2 separate regions of the Homo sapiens genome follow, and region 2 is linked to region 1. Evidence: fine-mapped expression QTL. A gene starts in region 1. The other region holds a variant in brackets. All regions are shown on one strand. Distances are between the middles of the regions.

Region 1 (4,389 bases):
GAGCAGGTATTTTTAATCTACTTATTTCTTCTCATTGCCTTCAGTCTCTACTCAGGCATTGAGGTTGTCCCTTTTTTCTGCTTCTTCCACAAAGCACAGAAGTAGGAGTGGGGCTGTGGGTCCAGACTGCTCCAGGCTCCAGATCTGGCTCAGCTGCTTCCCACCTGTCTGATCTTGGGAAGACTTACTAGCTGTATACTCTGAACAAACTCCTTCATCTCTTTGTTTTCTCATTTGCAAAACGGGATGACAACAGTACCTACCTCATGGGATTGTGAGGAATCGGTGCATTATTTATGTAAAGCTCTTAAATCAAGCCTGACACACAGTATGCAGTAAGCATGGGGCTGTTACTTTTCTGCTGCAGCCTGTATGTTGTTAGTAAGTTGATTGTGCCCTTCTGCTCCCCAACCCCTCATACAGCCTGGGGTACCTCCTGATCTGTCAGTTCCAAATGCCACAGCAAAACAACCCACACCCTGCTTACCAGGGGCTTGAAATCATGTCTAACATGTTGTTTCTAAGATGCTGATTTTTCTAAAAGTGCTGATCACCATGGGTTTAGCAGGCCTAAAACTAGCCCAGGAAGTGAAACTTTGGGGAGGAATTCCAAATAACCAAGCCTTTGCTGAAATGCAGAATGGAGAGAGGAGGGATGAAAGTGTGGACGCAGCCATTTCCCAGGCTTCCCCCACCCGCCCTGCCCCCATCCCCCCTCCCACCTCCATCCCCCCCTTACCTCCCTTAAGCCCCACAGCTATAGAGAGAGGAAATGTATTTCCTTTAGAATTTATAACAGTTGCTATCCTGAGTGCTAACTCGGTTCCAAAGGGTGCATTAGTCTGGTAAAGTGTAAAATATGGAGGCCCTGGAGAATCACCAGGGAGTGGGAGAGGGCTTTCGTGGATCCAGGGTGAGTCTTGGCTGTGGGGTTGTGCTAATGTGCAGAGGGCTGGCCAGAAAAACAAATGGGACATCCCTGACTTCTCGAATCCATAATGCCCAGGACAGTGACATGGCCTGCCATTATCTCAAGGCCAAAGTCTCATATCACTGGGCATCACAAAGTCCTTTAATCCCCACCTTGCAGATGGGATCAGTGATCTCTGAGCTACCATTTATGGAGCACTAAGCCCTTTATAGAAATGGCATCATGAAACTTTCCAACAGCCCCACGGAGATGAAGTTATAACAGCACCTTGGACCTTGGGGCCAGGCTGAGTAGGGTGGATGCTCAGTTCTCCTACATGTGACCTTGTGCAAGTTACTCAATCTCTCTGTGCCTTCATTTTCTCACCTGTAAAATAGGGATAATAATAGTTCCTACCTACTAGGACCTATTATTGTTGTGAGGATTAAATGAGTAAGCATCTGTAGCACTTAGAAAAGCATCTGACACAATGGCCCCTGTCTTTATGAACCCTTGTGTTACCGACATGGGCCCTGAGGCCAAGAAAAAGGACCATGGACCTACCATACACAGCTTGTGAAGCTGAGCCTCAGACCCAGCTCTGTGTGGTCCACAACCAGGGCTGGTGGGACTGCTGCTACTGGGAGGAGGCTAAAATACCCCTCTGACCCCCACCCCCACACCCCAACCCACCATGTCCCACCTCCTCAAACACCCTCCTCTCCCTGTGAGCTTAGGTGGTCCCTTCGAAACTGCTGGGGTAAAATCTGAAACCATAACTGTTCAAAGGTTCAAATGGAGTTTTCCCGGCGCTGAGAAGGCAGAAAAACCTCGACCTCTCTCTCCCAGCTCTGGAAATGAAGGCAGCCAGGAAGAATCCTCAAGCTCCCATTGCCAGGGACAGAGGTTCCCGGGGACCTGCAGAGGGGCCTCACCCCCACCCCACTCCTCCCCTTGCTGCTCGGGGTGGCACAGGTTGCTAATTAAAACACATCCTATTTTGAAATGTGGGCTCATTCATCAGGACGGGCTAGGGAGAAACAGAAGAGAGGTGTGAGGTTGTAGACCCTGGGGTCTCTTTAGTTCCCCGAAACCTCTAGGGGTAGGGTTCCTACTGTCAATCTTGTTCCACCTCTGTCTGACTTTGCCTTTTTCGATTTTGGCGCCCCTAGCAGGAATGAGGGGCGCAGGTATCACTATTTGTCTTTTTCAATCTATCTGTGATTGACTCTGCCAAACATCGTTTCATCTCTATTTCCATCTGTGCCTCTTTGTCTTGATTTATCTCTGTCTGTCGTTTTGTGTGCCCGCAGGTGCGTGGGTGGGGGTGGAGTTGTCTCACCAAGGTTCTGACCCTTCTGCCACCCCTCCTTCCAAACCCAAGGAGCAGTCCGCCTCGCAGAGCCCGAGCCCGGGTACCCAGCGGGAGCAGCTCCAAACCTGGGGCGCGAGCTGGGAGAGGGTGTCCGAGCGAGAGGCGCGCCCCTCGCGCCCCCTCTCTCCGCGGGGGCGGCCCTGGGCGCGTGGAACCGGGTGCGGGGGCGCTGCAGGCCCGCGGGGCCCGGGTCCCCGCCTTCCCCGCTGCTCGCGGGTGGGCCCCTCGGAGCGGCTCCTCCTCCGGCGCCCCGCTCCCCGAGAGCTCCCCGGCGCCCCCGCCGCCGCCCCCGCGACACCCAGCAGCCTGGCCGCCGCGGCCAACGCGCCACCAAACTTTCCCCGGAGCCGGCGCCGGTGAGTCGCAGCGGGGCGCGGGCTTGGGCGGGAGCGGGGCCGCCGCGGCTGGGCGAGGCTGCGCGCTGGCCAGGCTGGGTTCCGGGCATCCCGGCAGGGCGGCCGGGAACCCCGGAGCCGCCCGCTTGAGAAGAGCGCGCTTGGGTACCCTCGCGACGCGGGTGGCCTGGGGAGGGTGGCGGAGGGCGGCTCGCTCGGTGGCACCGCTCCCCTCTCCACACTGTGGCCTCAGCACTCGACGCGCAGACACCTTTAGCTTCCCCGGGCTTGGGCAGGGTGCGCGCCCTGAGCGTCCGTCTTTGAGCTCGGGCGAGCAGAGGGGGAGCCTCGTTTTCTTTGAGCCTCCCCAGGGTCTGAGTTCGCTGCTAACCGTAGTGCCAGCCCATTGGTTGAGTGCGTTCACTGTGCCAGGCTTTGGGCATCCATTATCTGTTGCAATATTGTTATACTCATTTTACAGAGGAGGAAACTGAGGCTCGGGGAGGGAAGTTGTGCCCAGGAGCATCAGCTGGTTAAGGGGAGAGAGTCAGGGTTTTGCTCGGAGTCATCCTGATCCAAATCACTTGAATACACTGAGGTAAGCCCCAGGCTCAGCGTCACCTGGAGTCGGGGGTGGGAACTGTCCGGACCACCACCCGCCCTTCCCCTGCAGTTCGGCTGCAGCTGGGGGTGTGGAGCAAGAGGCGGATCACCTCCTCCTCGTTGTACCGAGAGAGGAGGATGCTTTGGGAAAATGAGTGGATATTATGGCCAGGGAGTGGATTCTGGTGACAGAAAAGCATCGGGGCTGCTCTTTCAGAGATCAGATTCTAGAAGTTGCTCTCAGTTTTTCTCGAAGGAGCCCAGGAAGCCAGGAGCAGGAGCTGGAGTACAGCAGCTCCTCAAGGAAGTCACGTCTCCTGCTCTGTTACCCCACCCCCAGCCCCCAGTCCTCCATGAAGATCCCACCTCTTCCCTCCTGATTCCCTGATCCCTCTGAGGTGTCCGCTTGCCTGGCAGCTGATAGTGCAGAGATGTTCCAGGCAGAGTGGCTGTCCTCCGGCAGAGGGCTCCCGCCTCAGCCTGGAGCAGACAAGACGAGGCAGGCTGGGAGTCCTGGTGAACAAGGTTTTCAGGCTGGAAGGTGCCTGAATAACTCATTTCATGATTGCGGGGCCAGAAACCTGTGACAGGAGCACAGACGGAGTGTGTCCCTGGAGCATGAAGGAGAGGGGAATTGAGGGTCTTATAGGAAGAGTCTTGGAGGCAGCCAGAAACCAGCAGAGACTGGGAGAGAGGGAGGGTGTACACATGAGAGCATCATTATGCATTATCCCATCACAGCATTCTTGGAAGGTAAGTACTATTATTGAACAGATAGTCTACTGAGGCTCAGAGAGGTTAAGTAATTTGCTTGAGATTGCCCAGCTGGTCCATGACAGAATTGGGGTTTGAACACCCATGTTGCCTGACTCCCTCTAGATTATGAATGAAACTGAGGTGGCAGATGGGACCTTAGCTCCTTCTTTGCTTGTGTCTGGCAGCAGCAAAGGATGAATAGAGGAAAGCCAGGCAGCAGGTCCACTGCTCACAGGAATCCTGGACAACCCCATGTAAATCCTCGAGTGTGATTCAGGCATTTCTCCTGGTGTGGGGAGAATCTACGGAGAAGGGCAGGGGATGCCTGGCATTGTTTTCATTTTCAAATGTGACAGAGAATCCCGTGGAGGCAGGAGATGGACAGGTGCTGCCTGTCCATGATTTCAGGG
Region 2 (4,389 bases), 74 kb before region 1:
GAGGCAGGAGAATCGCTTGAACCCGGGAAGTGGAGGTTGTAGTGAGCCAAGATCGTGCCACTGCACTCCAGCCTGGGTGACAGAGCGAGACTCTGTCTCAAAAAAAAAAAAAAAAAGCGGGAGACTAGCTAGCTAAAACCAGAAGAACAGCCCAGCAGAGCCTAGCTGATTTGTGAGCCAAATAAATATTTATTGTAGTGTGCCACTGAGGTTTTGTGCCACTAAAGTTCTGTGGTTGGTTGTTACACAGTATCTGCTCTACTGATAGATAACTGATACACATCCCCAAACTGATACATTCCCAAAGGGTAATTTATCATGGGAGAAGGCCCTAGCTATGTGTTTACCTGGTCACATGGTTTTGTAAAACTCACAAAAGTAAAAATCTTTAAAATAATAGCTTGATTGAAATATAATTCACTTACTATAAGATTCACCCTTTCGACGTGTACAATGCAGTGATTTTTAGTATATTCACAAAGTTGTACAACCATCACCATTATCTAAGTCTAGAACACTTTATTCATTCCTAAAAATCAACCATTAGCAGTAACTCCCCATTTCCTTCCTCCCTGGCAAACACTAGTCTTACTTTCTGACTCAATACATTTGCCGGTTCTGGGCATTTCGTATGAATGGAATCATACAGTTTGTGGCCTTTTGTGTCTGTCTCCTTTCATTTCACATATGTTTTCAAGATTCATATGTGTAGTAGCAGGTATCAGTGCTTCATTCCTTTTTTGTAGCCAAAGAATAATCCATAGTTTGGATATGCCACATTTTGTTTGTCCATGCATCAAATGATGAACATTTAGGACAAGCAACACATTCTATCCGCAACTGGTTAAGACTCCTAGCTCATTCTACTCACACTTCCCCTCATGACAGGTGGCATTTGGGGAGAGTTGACTTGGTGATACATTTAGTTTGAGATCAGAGCATATATGGATGTGGTTCACCACCTCTTCCATATATAGGTTATTATTATTCTGGCTCCTATGGTTTGAATATTTGTCCCCTCCAAAACTTGTAGTAAAACTTAATCCCTAATGTGGCAATATTAAAAAGTAGAACCTGTAAGAGGTGATTGGGTCATGAGGGCTCTGCGATGGGTTATTATGGGGGTGGGACCGGTGGTTTTCTAAGAAGAGGAAGCAAGACTTGAACTGGCACACTCAGCCCTTTTGTCATGTAATTAAAAAGCGGAACCTGTAAGAGGTGATTGGGTCATGAGGGCTCTGCCCTCATGAATGGATTAATCCATTCAGGGATTAGTGGATTAATGGGTTATCCTGGGAGTGGGGCCGGTGGTTTTCTAAGAAGAGGAAGAAAAACTTGAACTGGCACACTCAGCCCTTTTGCCATGTAATGCCCTGAGCCACTTTGGGACTCTGCAGAGAGTCCCCAGCAGCAAGAAGCCCCTCACCAAAGGCAGGCCCTCAACCTTGAACTTCTCAGCCTCCATAAATGTAAGAAATAAATGATTTTTCTTTCAGGTATTGTGTGATAAACAACACAAAATAGACTAAGACACTGACATAGCAATGACCTCCAGAATAGCCCTATTGCCCCCATGCCAACTTGCCCTGCATCATGACATGAAGGAGTGAGGCCTATGGCTGTACCAAAATATCTCAGTGTGTGGTCTGGTGCCCAGTACCAGAAAGGTGTGGGCCAAAGAAGAGAAACAGTGTTGGAAATGGACAGAGCCAGAAATGGAAATGGAAAATTATTCAGATCATCACAGACAGTATTATAACTGGATTCAGTTCTCACTGACACCTAATCGAAAAAATTTTTTTTTCCATTTGGGCATATGCTTGATAATGCAGCATATCCCTAATAAGGTAACATATAGCATTATAAATATACCATACATTTTTCTTTTTGTGATGGAAAACATACAAAATTGAATTTATCAGAATTCTTGAGTCTGTAGGAGCCAAACCCAAGGCTGTGCTGCAAGAAGCAAGTATGTATATGAAGTTACATCTTGTGCATCCTAACTCGTGGTGAAAAAACGAATTTCAGTCGACCGTGTCAGAGGAAAGGCTGACTTATCATTCTTTTCTCTATTAGAAAAGATTATTAAAAATCATAAACATATGAAAAGTATATAGCAAAACTACCATGAAATGCATTTCAGAGGGTATCAGGAAGTTAATTAACACATATGTCATTTTTCTAGATTTTGCAGTGTTTCTGACCCTTGTCAATTTTTTAAAATTTTGTAACATTATGATTTCTTTTTAAATTCTAAATATGCATATGCATACCTAAATTAGGATTGATAATTTTGAAATCTTTTCCTTAAAGAGGGTCCCCCAAATTATATCAACTGAACCCCCTTCACTGCAAAATGTGGCTCCCTCCTGATACACACACCAGTGCATGCACACACATACCTATGCACCCCCAAGAGCCGACGCTGCCCAATGTCAGGGATGGAAGAGGAATCACAACTCTGCCCTTAGGCGGTGAGTGACTTCTTTGGTCATAAATAGAATCCCACCCTTGAGAAAC[T/C]GCAGAGCAGCTCAGAGACACACCCTACCACTGGCTCATCTTGGACAAACAACACAATTGTTTTTGCAGGCTGTGGTGCTCTGCCCTACCCAGACACCTCCCATCCATAAGGCCCAGCCCTTCCCTCTCCCTCCGTCCTGGCTTTTGGAAATCTTCAGCAGCCCTGTCTGCCTCCAGAATGATCTCTTCAGCTACTCCATACTCAGGGTATAAATCGAGGAAGAAGAACTCTTTTCAGGGGAATATTTGTGAAAGCAATGCTTATCCCTAAGGAATAAGCCACTGATGGTGGAGTTTTGTCATGGTGAAGGATGACAAATGGAAATATTTGTGGGAACTGCAGCCTTCCCACCTCACATATTTTGGGGGGCTCCTTCTCTCTCTCTCATTTTCTGTGTGCGTTTTGACTTCACTCTTCTTTCTGCTTCTGGCTGCTTGTATCTGCTTGGCCTCTACACCACAGGTCAGCACACTTTTTCTAGAAAGGGCCAGACTGTAAGTATTTTAGGTTTTATAGGTGACACAGTCCCTGTTGCAACTACTCATCTCTGCCACAGAGTGAAATCAACCCTAGACAACACTCAAACAAATGAGTTAAATCAACCCTGGACAACACTCAGACAAATGAGTGAAATCAACCCTAGACAACACTCAGACAAATGAGTGAAATCAACCCTAGACAACACTCAAATGAGTGAAATCAACCCTAGACAACACTCAGACAAATGAGTGAAATCAACCCTAGACAACACTCAGACAAATGAGTGAAATCAACCCTAGACAACACTCAGACAAATGAGTGAAATCAACGCTAGACAACACTCAAATGAGTGAAATCAACCCTAGACAACACTCAAATGAGTGAAATCAACCCTAGACAACATTCAGACAAATGAGTGAAATCAACCCTAGACAACACTCAGACAAATGAGTGAAATCAACCCTAGACAACACTCAAACAAATGAGCACAGCTGTGTTCCAAGCAGGCCAGAATCAGCCCACAGGCTGGACTTTGCCAACCCCTGTTCTAGACTTTAAGCTCCCTGAGGGCAGGGCCTGAGTCTGTCTGTTACACCACTGAATTCCTAGGGCCTAACAGCATGCCTGGCATGGATTGAGTGCTCAGCACATATCAGCTGGCTGTGGCTCTCTGTGTCTGTCAGTCTGTCTTGTTTCCTTCTCTGTCCCCTCCATCCATGAAAACTCACTAAGCCTCAGCTTTTCAGAAATGAACCACCTGCTCCCAAGCGAGTCAGACAATGAAAACAGCCTCACACTCTAGCAATCTGCTGCTTGGCGCAGCTCTCACAGGGCATTTAGGCAGTGAAGGGAGCCTAGCACTTAATTCAGCCTCTCTCAAAGGGCTCAACACCAACCTGGGAGAAGCATGAAGATGGAGAGGCTGAGGGAACCTTTGGAGGGCAGGGCTGGTGTCTCTGCAAGATGGACAGCCGCCTTGCAGGCACACCATGCTGCTGCTTCCCTTGCACACAGCCCCCAGTCCCTTTCTCCCTTCCTGTCATCCTTCATGCACTCATTCAATATTTACTGAGCTCCAACACTGTGCTAGAAAATTAGCCCTAGCACAGACATGGAAATCCCTCCCCAAAATAACTTGTTAACAAATAAATTAATGATCAGTTGGACAAAAGAGTGTTTAGAGGTAAGAACTGGTTCTGCTGGCAGCAAACAGGCATGTTTTTCTTTCTTTTTTTTTTTTCCAAGATAGAGTCTTGCTCTGTCACCCAGACTGCAGTGCAGTGGTGCGATCTCGGCTCACTGCAACCTCCGCCTCCTGGGTTCAAGCAATTCTCCTGCCTCAGCCTCCTGAGTAGCTGGGATTACAGGCACACACCACCACGCCC

Evidence for each region. PIP is the estimated chance that this variant, and not a neighbour inherited with it, causes the effect.
Region 2: its variant is the best candidate, but not a certain one, in a credible set for the expression of HRH1 in tibial nerve (GTEx, PIP 0.71).

The regions. Positions count from the first base shown.
Region 1 is chr3:11,151,914-11,156,302 of GRCh38, forward strand. HRH1 (histamine receptor H1) reads left to right here and starts at 2,580. Exons shown (of 2, transcript NM_001098212.2): 1 at 2,580-2,641. It overlaps LOC105376951 (a long non-coding RNA gene), which reads right to left and starts at 2,487. Exons shown (of 5, transcript XR_940593.2): 1 at 2,351-2,487. It overlaps LOC124909345 (a long non-coding RNA gene), which reads left to right and starts at 2,833. Exons shown (of 2, transcript XR_007095817.1): 1 at 2,833-3,218.
Region 2 is chr3:11,078,139-11,082,527 of GRCh38, forward strand. All of the region lies in intron 2 of LOC101927467 (a long non-coding RNA gene), which reads left to right. Among named protein-coding and RNA genes, the nearest start is that of SLC6A1-AS1, 61 kb to the left of the region's middle. The variant T/C (reference allele first, on the strand shown) is at 2,524.